Homo sapiens: one gene and its partners. The protein of the gene in region 3 interacts with the protein of the main gene of each other region in a pairwise test. Each region holds a gene or a part of one and is shown on either strand. Other genes may lie near its edges.

Region 1 (6,417 bases), on a different chromosome or scaffold from region 3:
ATGGTTTTGGTTTTGGGGAGGTTCTTCAGAAACAGCAGAGAGCAGATGTACCTGCAAGCTACTTACAAAGCAATCTTTTGATAAATGCAAAGGATTGATTGACCAATAACCCTTCTTCAAACAAATTCTAGAGATAATCCAAATTCTCGGCTGGGTGAGGCATAGTGGCTCATACCTGTAATCCCAGCACTTTGGGAAGCCAAGGCAGGCTGGTCACTTGAGGTCAGGAGTTCAAGACCAGCCTGGCCAACATTGTGAAACCCCGTCTCTACTAAAAATACAAAAATTAGCTGGGCATCAGGGTGGGTGCCTGTAATCCCAGCTATTCGGCAGGCTGAGACATAAGAATTGCTTGAACCAGCCAGGTGCGGTGGCTCATACCTGTAATCCTAGCATTTTGGGAGGCTGAGGCGGGCGGATCACCTGAGGTCAGGAGTTCGAGACAGCCTGACCAATATGATGAAACCCCGTCTCTACTAAAAATACAAAAATTAGCCAGGCGTGGTGGCATGCGCCTGTAATCCCAGCTACTCGGGAGGCTGAGACAGGAGAATCGCTTGAACTGGGGAGGTGGAGGTTGCAGTGACCGAGATCGCATCATTGCACTCCAGCCTGTGCAACAAGAGCAAAACTCCATCTCCAAAAAAAAAAAAAAAAAAGAATTGCTTTTGAACCCAGGAGGCGGAGGTTTCAGTGAGCCGATATTGCACCACACTGCAGCCTGGGCAACAGAGGGAGGGAGACTCTGTCTCAAAAAAAAAAAAAGAATTCCAATTCTCAAATCAAATAGGGGATAGTATGTTTTCTAAAAGGGAATCAATTTTGGACCCTTCTAGTGCATTTTAAAATTTAGTTTGACTTGCAATTTACTTCCTATGTGATATTTTAGAAAAACTGCTTTAGGGCTGGCACAGTGACTCGCCTGTCATCCCAGCACTTTGGGAGGCTCCGTCTCCAAAAAAAAAGAAAAAAAAGAAAAGAAAAACTGCTTTAATGTAAAAGAGGGTAGACTGATGTTCATGCTGAGAGGAGAATATGGTGTCCAAGGTCAAGGAGCTGGCATCTAATGAAGGTTTTCTTGCTGTATCATCCCATGACAGAATGGAATAGCAAGAGAGTGCAAGAGTGAGAGAGAGCAAGAGGGGGCTGATGTTGATTTTATAACAAACCCACTCCTGAGATAAGACATTAATCTGTTCATGAGGGTGAAGCCCTCATGACCTAAACACCTCCCATTAGGCCTCACCTCCCAACATTGTTGCATCGAGGATTAAATTTCCAACATACGAACTTTGGGGGACACATTCAGATCACAGCAGAAGGTAACATGAGATGGATGTGTTGTTGATCAGGCATTTACCATATGCTGGGCACATATGTTTTCTGATTTAGTCTTCATGCCAGCCTTGAGAAGTACTTACTCCTGTTCTCGTGGTTGTTAGTGATGAGCAACCTAAGGCTTGGAGAGGTTCAGTGATGTGCCTGATAGCATACAGTGATGCCACTGGAATTTTAACTTGAGTCTCTCTGACCCCTGAGTGCAGATACTTTCTCCTTTACATTGAATTTCCTATTAAGGATATATGGGTTTGGTGAAGAATGGACGGAAGGATAGCTGCCATGACTCTAAAGGGGCATTTAAATCTGGTGTGGAGGCAGGAAGCAAGGGAGAACTTGAGGTTCCCAACCCCCAAGCCCTTAAAAAAAGCCCGTGATCTGTTTTGCAGACTAAAGATAATCAGTTAGGGCCTGGCGTGGTGGCTCACACCTGTAATCCCAGCATTTTGGGAGGTCAAGGTGGGTGGATCATCTGAGGTCAGGAGATGGAGACCAGCCTGGCCAACGTGGTGAAACCCCGTCTCTACTAAAAATACAAAATTTAGCTGGGTGTGATGGCGCATGCCTGTAGTCCCAGCTACCAGGGAGGCTGAGGCGAGAGGATGGCTTGAACTCGGGAGGTGGAGGTTGCAGTGAGCGGAGATCGAGCCACTGCACTCCAGCCTGGGTAACAGAGCAAGACCCTGTCTCAAAAAAAGATAATTAGCCGGGTGTAGTGGTGCACACCTGTAGTCCTAGCTACTGAGAATCTGAGGCAAGAGGATTGCTTGAGCCTGGGAGTTTGAGGCCGCAGTGAGCTATGATCATGCCATTGCACTCCAGCCTGGGTGACAGAAAGACCCTGTCTCAAAACAAACAACAAAACCAACAAAAAGATAATTGGAACCAATTAATAGAATTAAAAAAGTATTCTGATAAGGGAAGGTCACCTCAGGGTCTGTTAGACTTCCACAACAAAAGTCTTCCATTTGGATAGGAAAGGACAGGGCGAGGGTTGGATCCCTACCACGGAGTGATTATATGGCCATGTAATTTTACTTTGGCAAGTGATGATAACTGGTGGCTGAATGATGGGGCTTCTGGGCAGCCAGTCTCCACATCTGTGTGTGTCTCTGATGTGTGTGATATGCGTCATACAGTGCAGTACCACAGAGCTGGAAAAACCATGGGACCCTGTTAGATTTTAACAAGCGTATATGCAGTACAAGAGAGAACACAGCCAAACTGAGTTGAAACTGCTAAGCAGATGGTTTGTTCTCTAGCTAACTTGATTCGTTCCCACATATTAGCCTTGCAGTATGAGAGGTTCTAATTCATTTTTCAGCAAAATTATTTATTACTAGATGTCATGCACTTTTGGGTGATTTGCAGATACCTTTGGTAATCACATGGTCATCACTGCTGGGCTTTTATCCTCTGAATAAACGTGAAGCATCCCTGGGTAATGGCCTGGTTTAGTTTGCTGCTCATTAAATGCCAAGACTTGCTTCCTGGTGTCCTTCTAACATTTTATTTGGGGTTTGCTCTGGGAATGGAAATTTATTGTATTGTTGATTTTCCTGTCTAAAATGAGATAGTTGAGGGCCAGGCATGGTGGGTCACGCCTGTAAGCCCAGCACTTTGGGAGGCGGAGGCTGGAGGATCACTTGAGTCCAGGAGTTTGAGACCAGCCTGGGCAACATAGTGAGACCCTATCTCTACAAATAATTTTTTAAAATTAGCCAGGTATGGCTGGGCGCGGTGGCTTACGCCCGTAGTCCCGGCCCTTTGGGAGGCCAAGGCAGGCAGATCACCTGCGGTCACCTGAGACCAGCCTGGCCAACATGGCGAAACCCTGTTTCTACTAAAAATACAAAAATTGGCCAGGCATGATGGCCGCCACCTGTAATCCCAGCTACTTGGGAGGCTGAGGCAGGAGAATCACTTGAACCCAGGAGGTGGAGGTTGCAGTAAGTCAGGATCACGCCACTGCACTCCAGCCTGGGTGACAGAGGGAGACTCTGTCTCAAAATAAATAAATAAATAAATAAAATTAGCCAAGTCTGGTAGTGTGTGTCTACAGTCCTACCTACTCGGGAGTCTGAGGCAGGAGGATCACTTGAGCCCAGGAGTTTGATTTTTTTTTAAATGAGATAGCTGGATTTAATTTTAATGTTCTGTGGTTTTATTATCAGTCAGTGCCAATAGGGAGACAACTGATATAAAATTGGAGAAGTACATTTAGTCCTGTCACTGCTCCCTTCCAGTGTGGAGAATGAATTGGGTTATAACAGAATCAGTGAGCCCAACCGCTCATGTTTTACATAGCAGGGTGGATGAGGGGAAATTAAATGGATTATATGTCCTTAGATGGTTTGGGGGTTATTCTCATTCTCTGTCCTGTTGAATAGGCTTCCGAAGATCTTCTCAAGGAACACTACGTTGACCTGAAGGACCGTCCATTCTTTGCCGGCCTGGTGAAATACATGCACTCAGGGCCGGTAGTTGCCATGGTGAGTGTGCCTGTGTGGGATACTCCAAGTATGCATTGCTTGTCATCTGTGCTAGGCTCTCTTCTAGACACTGGGGATACAGCCATGAATGAGACCAAATAGATACCTGTTTTCATATACCAGCTAATGGTTAGTGATAGGCTTCAGAAATGAAATATGCCCAGAAATGAATAGGAGTAGCAAATGATCACTTTAGATTGGGTGATCAAAGAACGCAATTTTTAAGCTGTGATCTGAATGACAAGAAGCAGCGATCTGAATGACAAGAAGCAGCCAGCCATGTACAGAATCACAGTGAAAAACATTTCCAGCCAAGCAAACAGCATGTGCAAAGGTCCCAGGGTGGGAATGAGCTTGGCTTTTTGAAGTACGGGAGGAGAGTTGAAATGCCCGAAGCCTGATGGGTGGGAGGGAAGTTGGGAGGTGAAGAGTTCAGAGGCATGGGCAGGGGCCTTCTCTCTTAGGGGTGTGTTGACCATATACTTCCTGAGTGCTGGGAAGCTATGGGACACTTCACACTTGGCATTTCTTTTTTTTTTTTTTTTTGAGACGGAGTCTTGCTCTGTTGCCCAGGCTGGAGTGCAGTGGTGCCATCTCGTCTCACCGCAAGCTCCACCTCCCGGGTTCACGCCATTCTCCTGCCTTAGCCTCCTGAGTAGCTGGGACTACAGGCGCCCGCCACCACGCCCAGCTAATCTTTTCGTATTTTTAGTAGAGACAGGGTTTCACCATGTTAGCCAGGATGGTCTCGATCTCCTGACCTCGTGATCCACTCCCCTCAGCCTCCCAAAGGGCTGGGATTACAGGCGTGAGCCACTGCGCCCTGCCCACACTTGGCATTTTAAGGAGGCTGCTCTGGTTGCTGTATGGAGAATACATTGTAGAAAGGCAAGCATGAGGGCAGGGAGATCAGGATCCTCAGTGCTGGAATAAGTGGATATACTCTATAAACATTTGTTCAGTGAATGAATATAATCTTAAGGGGCCTTTTTATTTTTCCTTTTTTGAATTAATAGTTGCCAGATTTTCTGCTGTGATTGGTTTTCTTCTTTGACCATATCTTCTTCTGTCCTTGGAGGTCTGGGAGGGGCTGAATGTGGTGAAGACGGGCCGAGTCATGCTCGGGGAGACCAACCCTGCAGACTCCAAGCCTGGGACCATCCGTGGAGACTTCTGCATACAAGTTGGCAGGTGAGATTTTGGTATTTTTCCCCCTTTTCCAAAATCTGATTTAGTTGCCACAAGGATTTGGGTTTCCGAGGCTGGAGGTAGACATGATACCATATGCAGGTTGATTTTATCGGAGTTTATTGTTTTCCTCCCTCTTAAGTTGGCGTTTGGCTTTGGTTGTTAACATCACTTAGTCGTACCTCTGTTACACGAAGTGTAGAACCTGGTACAACACACTTTGCTGGCCAGTCTTTCCTGAAGGCTCTCACTGTTTGCACCAGCGTGGCCGGGAGGGCTGGATGTGGGGAGGGCATTTTTCAGCCTTAAGTGAATGGCCATTGTAGGCTTTTTCTTTTAACATGGTCTAATGTCCATGGAGCTTCAGCTTTTATGCTGCTGTGGCTGTAGATTTCTGGCAATGGGCGCATTTTAATCCTTCTGGTCTTGGTCATGTGACTATCTCTTTCTCCACCCAGGAACATTATACATGGCAGTGATTCTGTGGAGAGTGCAGAGAAGGAGATCGGCTTGTGGTTTCACCCTGAGGAACTGGTAGATTACACGAGCTGTGCTCAGAACTGGATCTATGAATGACAGGAGGGCAGACCACATTGCTTTTCACATCCATTTCCCCTCCTTCCCATGGGCAGAGGACCAGGCTGTAGGAAATCTAGTTATTTACAGGAACTTCATCATAATTTGGAGGGAAGCTCTTGGAGCTGTGAGTTCTCCCTGTACAGTGTTACCATCCCCGACCATCTGATTAAAATGCTTCCTCCCAGCATAGGATTCATTGAGTTGGTTACTTCATATTGTTGCATTGCTTTTTTTTCCTTCTTTTCATGTACACTGAATAACCTGACCTAATAGAGAGTGTAAATACTATAAAAATGATTTATTTTGAGGTCTCACATACACACAGGCATTCTTTGCCTGCCCTTCTTAACCCCCGCATCCCTTCCACTCTTGGCACTGAGCTATTCAACAGGCATCTATGGAGCATGTGCTACGTGGCCAAGACTGGACTAGGTGCAGAGGATTCATCAGAAATGAAAGAAAACATGAGGGCTGGGTGTGCTGGCTTGTGCTTGTGATACCAGCTACTTGGGAGGCTGAGATGGGAGACCAGCCTGGGTAACATAGCAAGACCCTGTCTCACTAAAAAAAAAAAAAGAAAAATTAGGCTGGGTACGATGGCTCATGCCTTTAATCCCAGCTATTCAGGAGGCTGAGGAGGAGAATCGCTAGAGGCCAGAAGTTCAAGTCCAGGGTGGGCAACATAGCAAGACGCTGTCTTTACAAAAAAAAAAAAAAAAAATTAGCTCTGGTGCTGTGCACCTCTAGTCCTAGCTATTGGGAAGGCATAGGCAGGAGGATTGTGCCCAGGAGTCCAAGGCTGCAGTGAACCATGATCATG
Region 2 (7,746 bases), on a different chromosome or scaffold from region 3:
TTTAGTAGAGACGGGGTTTCACCGTTTTAGCCGGGATGGTCTCGATCTCCTGACCTCGTGATCCGCCCGCCTCGGCCTCCCAAAGTGCTGGGATTACAGGCGTGAGCCACCGTGCCCGGCCAAGGAGAAGTTTTAAAGAACACAGTAGGCACTAAATAAATGTGGAATGAATGAATCATTGATGTTTGCCTTTAAGCCTGATAGAGATTGCAAGTATTTTATACTTAAGTGCTGTGGGAATTCAGATTTTAATATGAGATTGCAATATAGTGAGCTTAGTCTGGTAAGGCTTCTTATAGCTGTAGATCTGAAAAAATATCATATTTAAAATTGCATGGTTGAACTTATAGGACATTCTGAAAGAGTTAAAATATGGCTAATAATTTCCATGGGGGAAATTTAATTTAAATGAGCACTTGGAAAGAGTGGTTCATTTCACTTATATTACTGGGATTCGACCACATTTTATAGATAGGCCTCTTTGCCTCAATTAGGTATCAATGGTTCAGTAATAATTTAATATTAATATGAAGGTTTTGGAGTTCTCCAACAGGTTACATTGAATATAATTGAGATAATTCTATGAAAGCCCAATAATATTGTCACTCTCCCATGCATCTGTTTTCTTTGATGGAGGAAATGAATGAAGTTACAACTAGAATTGAAGGAGGACATACAAGGGAGTGCATCTGAAATGTGACTGCCAGCATTTGGGTTTTAAATAGAAGAGACAGAAAATCATTGCATTAGGGCTAGAAATCTTTTCAATGGACTCATATCTAGATGATATTGTATTTTTTCTGCTTTTGTTCATTATTGTATTTCCAGCATTTAATGTAGTCATGTGTAATACATATTTGCTTTTATTTTTGATGGCATTTAGTTAGCCAACCAATTGTTAAACAAAGTCACGTCTCATATATCTGCATAACTTTCAAGATTCATGAATTCAAGATATTTAAAACAAAGCCTGGAATAGAAAATACATTAAAAAGTTTAAAAATTTGCTTTTCCCTCTCCACCCCTCTCCTCTCTTCCCCTTTCTTTCCCTTCTCTTCCCTCAAAGAAAGCACTTGTTAATATCAGGTAACAATTAAAAAACAAGTATTGACAGTTATCAGATAAAGAAAAATAACTCTAAAAACAGTCATAAGAACTATGTATCTATGGTATTTGGAGGCAGTTACTATAGCAAGAAATACTAACAGCAAGGTGTAGGGCTTGAAAGGGTGAGCCATAGTCTTTTGGAAAATTCAGTTTATTGGAACACCTTACGTTTCTTGATAGTATTAGATAAAGCCTAATTGGACTTATTTAGTAACTACTAGATGACGAGCATCTTGCTTGTTATGTTTATGTTTAAGATAGGATGGGATTTGCAGTCTAGGAGAAGAGGCAAAAGAAACACATAGGAAATTATTATAGAATAACATAAAACTATATATAATTAAATACCAGGAGAGGGAACAAATTGAGTGATTCTTCTTGTGTGGAGAATCTGAAGGTCTCTTTCTAAGGAGGTGGAATTAGAGAATGAATATAATTTGGGTTAAAAAAGGGAGCGGGGAGGCAGGATGGCTTCCAGGGAGGTAGGGGAGGCCACAGAAAGACTGGTGGTAAGGTGAACTGCGGCAGCCTGTAGGAGGGTCTTGAGGAATCATGCAAAGTAGGGCAAGATAGATATTATAGTGTAAAATCAGGAAGGCCTAATGGCCTATTTTCCTAATGTTTTTCCATCTTTACTCCAGTATCACTTACTTTGAAGAGAGACTATAGTTGTTGCTTGTTCTAGAGGCCTTTTTAATCTTTAATGATTGAACCCATTACTTTTAAAGAGCAACGGAGAGGATTCCTTTTTCAGTCAGTTTGGTGGTACAACATCCAACTTTAGGCTCTCCTTTCTATATTGATATCTAATTTGCAATGATTGAGTATCTTGATTAATAGTATCCTAGTCATGCTACTTGCTTCTCTTTCATTCATATACCACGTCATCTTAAGATCTTTTACCATGGAATTGATGTGGTCAGAACCTCTAACCACTGCGGAGATTCTGTTGACTGCCACTGACTTCTCTACTGGCCTTATATTATAGTGGCCATCATGATGCTGTTGTGATTAAAAGCCCAAGCCCTATGCAAAATTGCCCGGGTTTGAAACTGGGCTTTGCCATATATTAGCTGGATGACCCCGGACAAATTATCTAAACTCTCTGACTCCCGATTACCTAATTTTAAATTGAGGATAGCAATAATATCTACCTCAAACAGTTGTCGGAATAAATTAATGCAGATAAAGCACTTAGAATAATTCCTGGCACATGGTATCATATAAGGGTTAATTATTACTCTTGTCTCTAATAGGGATAAAAAAATGTGCACTTAATATTTAGGAAAATTATACCCCCCATGCAAACTCTATATTAACATTTTTTAGATTATTTTACATTTAAGTTGCATTTTAAGTAGTTCTTCAAGTAAGAATTTAGCTTTAAAAGGACTTCAAATACCTTTTAACACAATCTCTCCTCTAGTGCCATAGCAAAAGGCCTGGTGTGGAGTAGACTATAGTATCTACTCAACAAATATTTGCTATGTGAATAAATAAAGTTGCAAAATACTAAACATTCAAAAGACATGTAGGTAGTTATTATGATAAATAGAGTTATGCTTCATTCTTTAAGAATACAGAGAGGTGAGTTTAAACCCAATGTGGAGAACAGTAAATCTACAAAGGCTTCCTAGAAGCAATGATACTTAACTGAATCTTAATGGACACACAGGAGTTGGCCTCATAAAAAACAAGAAGCTTAAAGGGTCTAGATAGCCCATTTACAATATTGTCTCTGATCAACCTATTCAAAATAGGGCAATTAGTTAATGAGAACCATTTTATTGGTATTTATACCAAACACATATATGAAATTTCACTTTATCACCTATTATTCTAAGTGGAATCAAATTATTCCAAGTAGATAGATATTCTTAGTGATTCTGGTTGAAAATGTGTATGTTGAAGCCTTTTGAAAAATCTGGCTGAAAGAAAAATAATAGCTATCTTTTATTGAGTGATTCCGTGCTGGCCTTGTAATGAGCTCTTTTCAGGAATTGAGTAATCTAAACCTCACAAGAAGAAAGTTCTCCTACTGCCCAAACTGATAAACTTGGTAAGTAGCAGAGCTAGAGCTTGAACTCAAGGTTGCCAAGTGCATGTTCTTAATTATTACATTATGTGAAGTTTTGTATTAACTCCTCACTAAAAATACTGTCTTGTCTTGCTTTCCTTTTATATAATTTGAAGATATATTCAAAGAAATAACTTCATTAATGATATCAATTTAGATTTTATTTCTGGAGACTTTTGTAAACTGTTACATAAAATGTAATTTATAAATTTCCCTTCGACACTACACGGATAAACTCATCACAAGATTTCTTGCTAGTCAGCACTGTTCTCCACTAAAAGTGCTTTCACATCCACATCTTTGCTTTTTCCCCTAGTGAATATAGAAAACTACTTCAATAATGCATATTCCTTTCTATATTCCTTCAACAGAATGTTGCCTATTTAAATCATTAAGATGGATTCCTAGTACAGAATCAAAATTTAAAAAATAAAAACTTCAATTGTAAATACCTGGAATCATAGTCGATGTCTAAATATATTAAGTACATCCAAAAACATATTTACAAATCTAGTATTCATCACATAATGCCTCTCAAGAAAGCAGAGATCTCAAGCAGTTTCATTTTCACACTTCCTTCATAAAAGTATTCGAATGCATGAAGGCCATCTGGCTATGTTACTACCTCCCCTTTAACATTAACTAATGTGGCAATCAGGCTAGTGTCCCACTGTTCCCTGACCACTAGCCAATATCAACCCTCTGAACATTACCCACTTCATGCTTTTTTCAAGTCCTTATCTTTACATACATTTCTACTGTTGACAACAAGCCATAATGTTGACTACCATTAGGTTTCTACTAATGTTTTCCAGTCATATTCTTCCAAGTCAGAGAATGTAACTGGCTCCACCAGGAAATAAAATAGAGGTCATTGAAGCAGCAGTGACTTCCAAGCTGTTTGCTAAATTTAGCAGCACAATACTTTCCACTCTAATGAAAACTGTGAACTGCAATTTTAGAATGTTGGAACAGGATGGGACTTTAAAGGTCATTGAGTCCAATCCCCTCATTTTTCTGATGGAAGTGTGGAGGCCTAGACGTAGCCAGTAATTTTCTGGAGGCCACAGAGCTTGTTAATTATGAAGATGGAACTCGAACTAAGATCTGCTCAGCCCTGCAGTAATGCTGCCCTCACTACACCACAGATGCTCTGCCTCCTAGGATGAGTTTAAACTAACCAGATCTTATAGCATAAACATAGCTGATATTATTGGTTGTGGCTTACCCTCCATGGCCATTCAACTGTTTCGTGGCTGAATGTGAAATAGCAAAGGTATCTGACTTATAAGTTGCTGAGAGAAATGATTCCATACCTAAACCCTGCCCCCAACTCTAAAAACTTCCTGCTTGATGTTCATCAATAATGAATGGCCCATCCCTGCAATACTCAGAGGGAGCTTACATTGCACTTTTGAGCAGCCGGTTAGTAATGTACAGTGGATAGAGCCTTTCTTTCAAATCCCAGGGCAGTGGGTCCTTCAAGGCTAGCATTGCATTTTCAATTAGCTGCTGAGTGAATGCTTGGCATGTGTATTAGTGAAGAGGCACACAATTAGCGTATTGTTCCTTTCTGTATTGTGCTGAGAGGATCCAAGGGATTGGTGGGGGAACAGGCAAGCCAGGCATCACCGTGGATGTTGAAGAAGGGGGTTACTCAAACCTCGGCATCTTCACTTGCTCGATCTGGAATTACAGCTATTTATTACGAAGCACTCTGTGTGGCTTAGTGGAGTGTGTCTGAGGAAACACATCCCGGACACCACTTAGGGTTAGTCTTTCTGAGCTCTTCACATCTCTGACTAATTATCATCATTACCATGGAGCCCAACAGTCCCAAAAAGATACAGTTTGCCGTGCCTGTATTCCAGAGTCAGATTGCACCTGAAGCAGCAGAGCAGGTATGTGAAATTGCATGGAGAACCATTCCTGTACATAAGGTAATATGAACATGCATTCTGGTTATTAATTGAAAGGTTCTTTACCTTTTGATTTTGCTAACTCTGACTTTCAAGATAATGTAAACAAGAAATAAGTTGGTTTTTACACATACTTGTATTTAAATTGCATTGGGAGAACTATTGTCTAAAATGTAACACTTCATTTGATACAAAATTAGCACCTCTGAGGGGAAAATGGCTCTGTAAGCAATTCAGATATGGATTCATAAATCTGTTCATTTTTGCTCATTAAAATAACAGTTTCAACATTTAGAGCAACTTTTAAAAATTATCAAAATGAGCAACATTTTATTTCATTTTTTATAAAATAAAATGATTGATTTAGCAATAAAATCATTAAATCCTGCAATAGTTTGAGACTATAGGCCTAATACTTTATTTTCATATGTTTTATTATTGTGGACACAAAACAATGATTATAAGTTTATATAATATATTACAGCTAGGATTTGTAGCTTTTTGTACAGTTTTAAAATCGTTTTGTTCAGACATTACAAACAGTGTTTTAACATTTCCTAGATTCTTTGTCCATGTCTAATATTGGTTTACATCTGTATCACCTTTCATATTCAGATTTACTTAGATTCTTGATGCAATGGCATCTCTTAGAACTGCAACTGTGAGGAGGCAAAAGCAAAGAAATTTATGAGGACATCAACCTAATCCATTCATTTCTTAAAACTTAAATTATTCTTGAATCCTTTTCCAAGTATTTGATATAAAGTCTTAAAAATAATTATTTAATCCGTGACTCATAGTGTTTCAGGATGTTTTGAAATCTGAGGTAGATGCACCTAGACTCAGGCCAGATAAATGTATCCTTGAACATGTGTCTATCCATGCTGAATGGGATGTTGCTTCTATCTTGGACAGGATGTCATTGATAAATTTTATTATCTATCCTACTGACACTTACTTTGGGTATTTACCCATAAATGAATATAATAAACAAATAAAGGATATTATATTCAAGGGATTCTGACAATACTATGCTCCTGTAACTCTTAAAATGAAAAAAAAAAACTTTAGAGTTTGTAATAAGTTGCATATTCTCATAAGATCCATATTTATTCTTCATTTGTTTATTTGTTCTAAATATTATACTAGAAAATAAAAAAGTTAACAAAATTAATTGAAATTCAAAGCTTATGCTGTTGATTTAACTCTGGTACCTGCTAGAAATAGGTTTCCAAGCTCTTCCTTATCCTGTTTAAAAATAAGGGTAATGAATCTTGAAAGCACCACCAATGTTATGAGGCTCCAAGCAAGCCACTAACATTATCAGGTCAACCCTGTACCTTCATTGTAAATTAATTTTCTGTTGTATCATTCAGTTGTATATAATTATTTCTTTTCCGTGGAAATGTAGCTTTTTGGTCAAAGAGGGTGATACTTCTATCAGACAGTTCAATTCTGTGGCTTTCTATTATTTCAAAATAAAATTAGTGAGCACCTTCCATGTGTCCTCCAGAAATTTGCTTTTGCATGTGGGGAAAAGATGAGGGTGAGACAGCTTTGCAAGCTGCAGAGTAACCTGGAGCAGTGTCTAATACTCACTGATATTAGCTGGGCTTTTGTCGTTCACAGATCAGGAAAAGAAGACCTACACCAGCATCACTTGTGATTCTCAATGAGCATAACCCCCCAGGTAAAGAAGCATGATGTGTTTCACACTGATGGAACAGAATGGAATTGTTTAAAGAACATCAAAGTACATGTCGTACTGAAAAGTTTCAATTTAGGATTTCACAGTTAGCAATACTCTAGAAAGCTAATCTATAAAATGGATCGTAAACAGAATCAGAAATAAATATTACAGGAATAATCTCAAGCCACAGCCTGTATTTCCTCTAGAATATCATAAGTGATGATATGCTATGAAATATTTTGCTAGCACTGGCTGTCATATGTTCAGGTGTTTGTATGGAACCTGGATTACTGCTTATTAATGAGGCTGGTGGAAAGCTGTTTAATTAGGTTTAAAAGCTCAAATTACAGCCCTAGAGATGCTTATATCTTTACAGAGTAAGTTTTTTATATGGAAAAGGTTGACATGGGGTGGGCAATGACCCAGCGTTGGCTTCAGCTTTGCTGATGACGTCATCTCTGAATAATGCAATTGACAAGTAACCAGATCAATTTTCAGCACTGCCTATTTGAGAGCCATTCTGAATGGCTGAATCCATTTGTTGAGGTTTTATTTTCCATTTCCTGTAAAAATGAAAACCGCATTATTATTCCGGATAAAAGACTATGATCTGTAATCCACAAACATTATTTACTTATTGAAGCGGGGTGATTTTTAGTCTCACATTTAAGTGCTGCTTCTGGATATACAAGTAGGATAGGAAAGGTCATGACATTAATTTGCAACCAGGCAGAACTTGGTGTTGGATTTTTTTGCAGGTATAAACAATAATGGGTGGACAAAAGGAGTTTAAACAGTGGAAACATAATATGTCTAATAATAGACTGTAGCGAGTGATCTAAGAATACCAGGGTGAAATAGTCCTTGACTTTTTCAGACTCTTTTCTAATTAGAGAAACATATAAAAAGAACGTAAACTAATAGGCTATTCATCATTTAGCCCAAATCCAAGA
Region 3 (8,142 bases):
CATGCTACAGCCTGCTGGTCTTGGCTGTCTGTTAAGTGCCTCAATATTCAACATGGCTAAGATTAAACTTATCTTCATCCTCATATCCCTTTCTGTTTCCATAAAAGCCATTTCTTCCTTTAGGTTCCATATCTCAAAAGCCTGGGTTTTCTTCCCTCTTGTCACACCTTGCAGCTTAAGTAATCACCATATCAAGATTCTTCCTCTGAAGTTCCTAAATACCTCTCTATCTCCATGCCCACCGCCAACACTTTACTCCAGGCTACCATCACTCCTCACCACGATTATTACAATCTTTTCTTATTTCTGTTCTAGCCACCTTCCCTGCCCAAGCCATTTCATGTCAAACTAGACTTTTTTTTTTTTTAAGACTAAGGAACAAAGAAACATGTCACTTAAGACATTTGCTAAGCACCCACTATGTATCAGGTAATGGCATGAGGTCACAAAGATGGGTTAAACACTGTTTAGCTTCATTTCTTACTCCTACCCAATGTCAACTCTATCCTTCAGCTACTTTCAGTCTTCAGAAGGTAATTTTTTCCCTTGCCTCCAGGCTTTCATACTGTTGCCTCTGCCTACAATACTAAACCCTTTGCCTAATTGCTTCCTATTTATCTATCAGTCTGGTCTCAGTTTAGACATAATTTCTCCAGATGGTGTTACCAATCTCTCTACTCTGGGTTAGGTATCACCTCTATTTTTTTTTCTTTTTTCTCCAACTGTTAGCTAAATATCCATGTGGTGTTTTAATAATTCCTAACCATAGAACTTTTAAAAATAAGTTTTATTGAAATATAGTTCACATTGCCATAAAACTCATCCTTTTAAAACATATAAAAAACATATGCCAGTGGTTTTTAATATATTCATGAGGTTTTTCTGAACATCGTCAATAATTCCAGAGCATTTATTTCCATCAATACAAAAAAAAACAAAACCCAAAACAAAAAACCAACCCTGGAAATGACCAATCTACTGTCTATATTTAGAATTTTGCCTACTCTGAACATTTTATGTAAATAGAATCGCGTAATTAATGTGCCTTTTGTGTCTGGCCACTTTCACTTAGCATAATTTTTCAAGTTTATCTATATTGTAGCATCTATCTGTACTTCATTCCTTTTAAGGGTCAAATAACCTTTCATTGTATGGATATAGCACACTTTGTTTATCCATGCATCAAATGACGGATATTGGGGCTGTTTCTGCCGTCTATTATGAATAATGCTGCTATGAATATGCACGTGCAAGTGCTTGTATGCACACACGTTATCATTTCTCTTGAGTATATACCTAAGTGTAGAACTGCTGGTTCATATGATAATTCTATGTTTAACATTTTTTTGAAGAGCTGCCAAACTTTTTCAACATGGCCGCACCATGATACAATCCCATGAATAGTGCATGAGAGTTCTGATTTGTCCACATTCTCACCAGCATTTATCATTTTTTAAATTTTAGTTTTTCTAGTGGGTGTGAAGTTGTATCTCATTGCAGTTTTGATTTGTATTTCCCTGAGGGCTAATGATGAGCATCTTTTCATGTGCATTTGTATATCTTCTTGGAAGAAATGTCTATTCAAATTCACTGCCCATTTAAAAAACTGAATTATCTGAGGCCAGACATGGTGGCTTACGCCTGTAATTCCAGCACTTTGAAAGGCTGAGGCGGGTGGATCACTTGAGGTCAGGAGTTCGAGACCAACCTGGCCAACGTGGTGAAGCCCTGTTTCTACTAAAAATACAAAAATCAGCCAGGCATGGTTGTGGGCACCTGTAATCCCAACTACGTGGGAGGATGAGGTACAAGAATCGCTTGAACCCAGGAGGTGGAGGTTTCAGTGAGCTGAGATTGTGCCATTGTACTCTAGCCTGGGCAACAGAGCAAGACTCCAACTCAAAACAAAAAAACAAAACACACACACACACACACACACACACAAAACAAACCCAAAAACTGAGTTGTCTTTTCATTGTTGAATTGTAAGAGTTCTTTATATACTCTGGATACTAATCAGTTATCAGATATGTTATTTGCACATTCCCTTCCATGTTGTGGACTGTTACTTCACTTTCTTGATAGTGTCCTTTGATACACACAAAAAAATTTGTTTTGAGATATGGTCTCACTGTTTCCCAGGCTGGAGTGCAGTGGCACAATCTCTGCTCACTGCAACCCCCACCTCCTGGGCTAAAGCAATACTCCCACCTCAGCCTCCTGAGTAGCTGGGATTAGAAGCACCCACCACCATGCCCTGCTAATTTTTTTGCATTTTTTTTTGTAGAGATGGAGTCTCATTTCATTACCCAGGATGGTCTTGAACTCCTGGCCTCAAAGGTAATCCTCTTGCCTCGGCCTCCCAAAATGCCGGGATTACACAGTTGTGAGCCACCAAGCCCAGCACTAAATTTTTTTTTAATGAATGAATGGATTAGGTAACCAAAATATCAAGTTTCTTTTTTCTGTCTAAAATTGTATCAACTCTGTGCAGTAACATTGTTTTCATCATGTTGTTGGCAGTTAAAAATTCCTTGACTAACAATTCAGAAGCAAACGAATGCACAAGATGATAGGGATTGTGTGATTTAACAGGTTTTGGAGCAACACTGATCTGGATTCAAATCCTAACTTTAAGAACTGTATCCTTGGGCAAATTACATTACTATTTTTCTTTCTTTAAAATGCGTTTTTTTGTTTGTTTTTTAAGTGCCAGGGGTTTATTTCCCTCACATGTGGGATGGCTCACATACACAACACACAAAGGCGTTGGCACCGTGGGAGAGGGCAGCACCCCTGGCTTCTGCTTGGCCTCACAGTGTAAGAAGGGAGAGGATGGGTTCTCTCTCCTCCCCTCACTAGGGCCTAGGGGACCCAGGAGCAAATTCCATCCCTTTCACCTCTCAGCCAAGGAGAAGCCACATTGGTGACATTTAGTTCCAACAATTACAGTAAGTGGAGAAGGGATTGGTCTGGTCCCGACCATTACACGGTGAAGGTATACATAGTAAAGGAAGATACAGTTTGGATGAGGCCACAATAGGGTGCAGATGACACCATCAGAAGCATGTGCAGGGGAGGGGCAGTCACTCAGCTTCTGGGCTGCTTAGTTCCTGGGTTGGCAGGAAGGGTAGGGAAGACGGATGGGGCTCATTGTTTGGCATTGATGATGTCTACGAATTCGGGCTTGAGGGAAACACCACTCATGAGGAAGGCAGCCACGTCAGGCTGGCTGGCCAGCTCCTTGCAGGTTGCCTTGGTCACAGAGCCTCCATAAATGATACCAGTGCTCTGAGCCACTGCATCAGAGATGTTGGACTTAAGCCATCCTCGGAGCTTCTTGTGTACCTCCTGGGCCTGTTGGGGTGTTGCAGTCTTGCCAGTACCAGTGGCCCACACGGGATCATAGGCCAAGATGACCTTGCTCCAGTCCTTCACATTATCTGCGATGACCTTTGTCTGCTCAAAAACAACCTTCTCAGTGATGCCAGCTTCCCTTTCATCTAGCTTCTCCCCAATGCAGGCGATTACTCCGAGTCTCTCTGCCAGAGCATGGGCCACTTTTCTGCCCAATCAGCTCATCTGACTCCCCAAAGACACGCCTTCTGAGTGCCCCAGGACCACACCACCCACGTGACTCCTAAGTCTTTGACCATGCCAGGGCTGATCTCCCCAGTAAAGGCCCCATTAGTCACTTTGTAGCAGTTCTGCGGAGCCACAGCAATCTTGGGAGCTAGCTTCTGCCGGGCCAACTCGTTATACGCAGTGGCGAGAGCACAAATCACCTTGGTGTCGGCAGGCACAGTGGCCGCGTTCTGAGTGCCGATGAGCTCCCCCAGACATTTCTTCCGCCCGTTCATCTTCCAGTTCCTCCCCACGAAGAACTTCCTGGAGGGCGCCATGGCGCTGGAGCTGAGGCGCTGTAGGTCAGTGTCAGCGCCTAAAACGGGTTTTATTAATACTTGGCAAGGTTGTTAGGCGGATTAAATGAGATCTTGTAACTACAGTGTTTTACACATTGTGATCATTTATCAAATAGCAGTTATTTACTAGTGCAAAGGACTAGCAGCAATGTTAATATCAATATACTGTTACCTTTTGTCCCTAATTTCTCCATAGTACAGTTTCCAATATTTCTGTTTTCTTTTGTGAATTGTTAGACCACTGGTATTGGATTCGGACAGAAAGGCATTCACAAAAATACAGTTCAATGTGAGAATAACCCTAAAGATGTATGCAAAATGCTCTGGAGTTAGAGCACCAGGAGCTGTAAGCAGAATGAAGACCTCTTTTGGGCTTAAGAACTAAGTAAAGGGGAGCTGAACAAAGATTCTAGGCATTTTGGATTTATCTCAATGTGGCACATATTTCAGGTTTGTAAAATAGTTCAGTTGACTACGTGTCTGTCTCCTCCACTAGAGCCAGCGTAGGTACCATGTCTTAAGTCATCTTTGGATCTCCAGTACTGTGGCCACTCTAGGGAGAGTTGAATTGACGCGCCTTGATCACCAGGGCAGAAAAGGATTCTCTGGAGAGGGATGGGGCAGTCGGAAGGGGTAGGAAAAACCTGGATCCGTTTCCAAGGAGCTGAAGGCAGCTCAGATATGGGGCACATCTCGGCGCTAATGTCCCAAGCTGCTAGCGAGGAACAGAGAGAACACCGGCTCTTCTTCCCGGCTCCTGGCCCGGCAGGGTTACTTCCGGGAGGGGGCGGGGAGACAAGAGGAGGCGTGCCGGGAAGGAGGCCGTTTGTAGTGTACCAGGCGGAAGTGTGCCAAAGGTATCGGTGCTGTCGCTTCCGGTCCGGGTAAACGAACCTTAGGTACACTGGTGTGTGGCCTCCCAAGATAGGCTTCTGAGGGCAAGTCAGCGACTGAAGACGGGAGCGCCAGAATCTGTGGACTCAAGAGTCTAGAATCAAGTGGAAAAACCGGAAAAAAGGCCAGGAACCTGAATACGACCTAATAGCTGTTTCCGAGGGGGCAACTTCCACGGAGAGCCTTCTGCCCTGGTAACGGCCAAAGAGGAGGAGATGGCGCCAGTCAGGGAGCGGCCGTGGCCCAGACAGTGAGGAAGCGCGAAGGCGGAGCAACCGAGGAATCCTCCGGAGAAGAATCAGAGCCGTCGCTACCGCCACTACCGCCACCACCATGGAAGGAGCAAAGCCGACATTGCAGCTCGTGTACCAGGCAGTGCAGGCGCTTTACCACGACCCAGATCCCAGCGGAAAGGAGCGCGCCTCTTTTTGGCTTGGGGAGCTGCAGCGTTCGGTGAGGGGCCCAGAGAGGCAGTTCTGTGCCGCACGGCCGGGGCGGGGTGGAACCTAGGCTCCGGGGGAGAACCTGAGCCCGGCAGTTGACCTCGTGAGGTCCTCCTTGGGGAGGAGCTGCTGTCGTGGGGTGGGGCTGCGAAGCTACATCTTTGCCGCTTTTGGGAAACTAGTCGCACCTGATCGGTCGCGAACTGGCCCTTTCCCCACCCGGCAGAATCTGATTTGTAGGTCTTATACTCTTCGATTGTGGCATCAATCTAATCTTGTTTAAGTTCTCCCTTTGCCGTTGCTTCTTGGGCCGTGCTTTTCCGTTTTGTCTTCCTCCCACCAAATCCAACCCCAGTGTTTCTCCACCTTCCGCTTAAGAAGGCTTTATTCGTCTCCCCTCCGTGTCCAAGACTTGCATCTGGCATTTTGCTCCCAGTCGTAGCCTTATGCCTCACTCTTTTTGCCTATTTTCACTCCAGTTTGAGTCTGTTCTTCTCGAAACTTCTCAGGTTTCTAGATTCTTACTCATGCGAGTTTTCCCCTTGCTTTGGAGTGGCAACATAATATGAAGAAAAAACAGTAATTCTGCTTTCAGAAAATCTTTGGAGTTCTCATTTTGTTTCATATTAATCCTCTAACCTTGTTATTTCTCTGGCTTTTAGATTTTTATTTATAAGATGGGTATCACTGCTGCTTTGATTATTCCATATAAAACTGTGTGTGCATCCGGTGAGATATTTAATTGTAGCTTATATCTGTTGTATTTCTGCATTCTTTGATTCATGTTTTATGCTTCCTGCCCTAATTTTCACACCTTTGCTGTGCTTCATTTCTGTGTAAATGTGTATTCTTGGTTATCTGGCTGACTTAGGTTCTAATGTAGGATGTACTTTAAAAATTAAGTACTTTGAAAACTAAAGAGGCTTTTTTTACAGGCTGACAAAATACTCACCTTTACCTTTATTTTTGCATTTTATACTCACAACCATATTTTTTTTGGCCCCCTTCCCTTTATTTTAACTCATAACTGATACTTAAAGGTGCTCTGCCTTATTAAATCAGCTCCTAGGCTGCAAGTGCATAATATTTAAAAATTTGCAACTTTGACTTTTTAAAAATCTGGTCTTGGTATGGAGCAACTTTGCCTTTTTTTTTTTTTTTTTTTTGAGACAGAGTCTCGCTTTGTCGCCCAGGCTGGAGTGCAGTGGTCCCATCTCAGCTCACTGCAACCTCCTCCTCCCGGGTTCAAGAGATTCTCCTGCCTCAGCCTCCCGAGTAGCTGGGATTACAGGTGCCTGCCCTGACACCCGACTAATTTTTTTTTTTTTTTCTTGAGACAGAGTCTGGCTCTGTTGCCCAGGCTGGAGGAGTGCAGTGGTGCTATCTCGGCACACTGCAACCTCCTCCTCCCAGGTTCAAGTGATTCTCCTGTCTCAGCCTCCTGAGTAGCTGGGATTACAGGCACACGCCACCACACCCAGCTAATTTTTGTATTTTTTAGTAGAAACGGGGTTTCGCCATGTTGGCCAGGCTGGTCTCTAACTCCGACCTCAGGTGATCCGCCCGCCTCGGCCTCCCAAAGTGCTGGGATTATAGATGTGAGCCATCGCCCCCCGCTGCAACTTTGACTTTGAATATTAAACCTAAAAAACTGGCACCCAAGTCCTCTTCAGAAAATAAAGGAATACGACTCACTGTAGGCTACACAAGAAAATCATTCACATATGGTCTCATTTAGTGTTTCTGTGATCTCTGGAGAGTCAACAATTCCCTGATCTTTGTATAGTTTTCTAAAGTGTAATTAGGAGAAGTGCTACACTATACTAAAAAAGTAATCTCTTTCTAATTAAACCTGCTTGTTGTGTGTATTTTAAATCAATATTTGAGTGCTTACCATGTGCCAGCAACTATGCTGGGTGTTTGGATTTGGAAATGAACCAGACAAAAATCTCTGCTTACCACAGAAGGTAGTTGTGATTAAATGAGTTAATATTCTACGAAGAGGTTAGAAAAGTTCTTGGAACATAGAGATTAAAATGTTAGCAATTGTTATTTAAGTATTAGTCACTTTTCTCTCCTTACTTTCCAATACTCTATTACAACCTTACATCATCTTCACCATCACAGTTAATAGTCAGAGTCCAGACAGGAACAGATGGCACACTTGACAGGATAATCTGAGTTTATTTTATAAAGATACTATTATAAAGATTTAGGTATAGTGGTGTGACAAGAAATAGTTTGGTAACCTATAGCTGAACGGTTAACATCCCATAAAAGAGGGAATAGTTACTTGAAAAGTATGGAGTTGGCTGCCTTGAGAGGAATGGTGACTTTCAGCCGAAGGGACATAGCTAGTTTCAGGTGACCTTGAGAGAATGAAGCTGGAGGAATGAATATCCTGACCCTGTTCTCTTAATTTCTTGCTGGGATTCCCCATTGGCCAAACCCAACCGGAAGCCAGGGGCACAGTGACCTGTTGGTAAAGTCTATACAGGTCAGCCTATTGGAGCAGAAAACATGATAGAGGAGGGTGGAAAAGTGGATCTGGAAAATATCCAGCAGTAACACATCACGTTTAGGCAACTTCAGCATCTGGATTGACAGTTCAGCTAACACTTTGGCCTTCTGATTCCTTTACCTCTTCATTCTCTTTAGCCACCTGGTCACACAATCACACCCTGGATCTTGTCTTTACTAAAAAGCCACCACCCAGGCTGGGCGTGCAGTGGCTCACGCCTGTAATCCCAACACTTTGGGAGGCTGAGGCGGGCGGATCGCTTGAGGTCAGGGGTTTGAGACCAGCCTGGCCAACATGGTGAAAACCCGTTTCTACTAAAAATACAAAAATTAGCTGGGCGTGGTGGTGCGCACCTGTAGTC

Evidence for each region. Proteins that work in one complex are often made in the same cells at the same time.
Region 1: the proteins of TNPO3 (region 3) and NME1 interact in binary tests that used the Homo sapiens proteins (3 or more experiments, as listed by UniProt).
Region 2: the proteins of TNPO3 (region 3) and PPP1R1C interact in binary tests that used the Homo sapiens proteins (3 or more experiments, as listed by UniProt).

Annotation. Positions count from the first base shown.
Region 1 is NC_000017.11:51,156,252-51,162,668, forward strand, and holds the end of NME1 (nucleoside diphosphate kinase A), read left to right. Parts: intron 1-3,728; coding exon 3,729-3,830; intron 3,831-4,908; coding exon 4,909-5,021; intron 5,022-5,476; coding exon 5,477-5,594; 3' UTR 5,595-5,917; downstream 5,918-6,417. Other genes in the region: NME1-NME2 protein, read left to right, coding at 3,729-3,830, 4,909-5,021. UniProt on the Homo sapiens protein: Major role in the synthesis of nucleoside triphosphates other than ATP. The ATP gamma phosphate is transferred to the NDP beta phosphate via a ping-pong mechanism, using a phosphorylated active-site intermediate.
Region 2 is NC_000002.12:181,981,107-181,988,852, forward strand, and holds the start of PPP1R1C (protein phosphatase 1 regulatory subunit 1C), read left to right. Parts: upstream 1-4,746; 5' UTR 4,747-5,004; coding exon 5,005-5,085; intron 5,086-6,711; coding exon of another isoform or gene 6,712-6,732; coding exon 6,733-6,793; intron 6,794-7,746. UniProt on the Homo sapiens protein: May increase cell susceptibility to TNF-induced apoptosis.
Region 3 is NC_000007.14:129,051,779-129,059,920, reverse strand, and holds the start of TNPO3 (transportin-3), read left to right. Parts: upstream 1-4,809; 5' UTR 4,810-5,150; coding exon 5,151-5,270; intron 5,271-8,142. UniProt on the Homo sapiens protein: Importin, which transports target proteins into the nucleus. Specifically mediates the nuclear import of splicing factor serine/arginine (SR) proteins, such as RBM4, SFRS1 and SFRS2, by recognizing phosphorylated SR domains.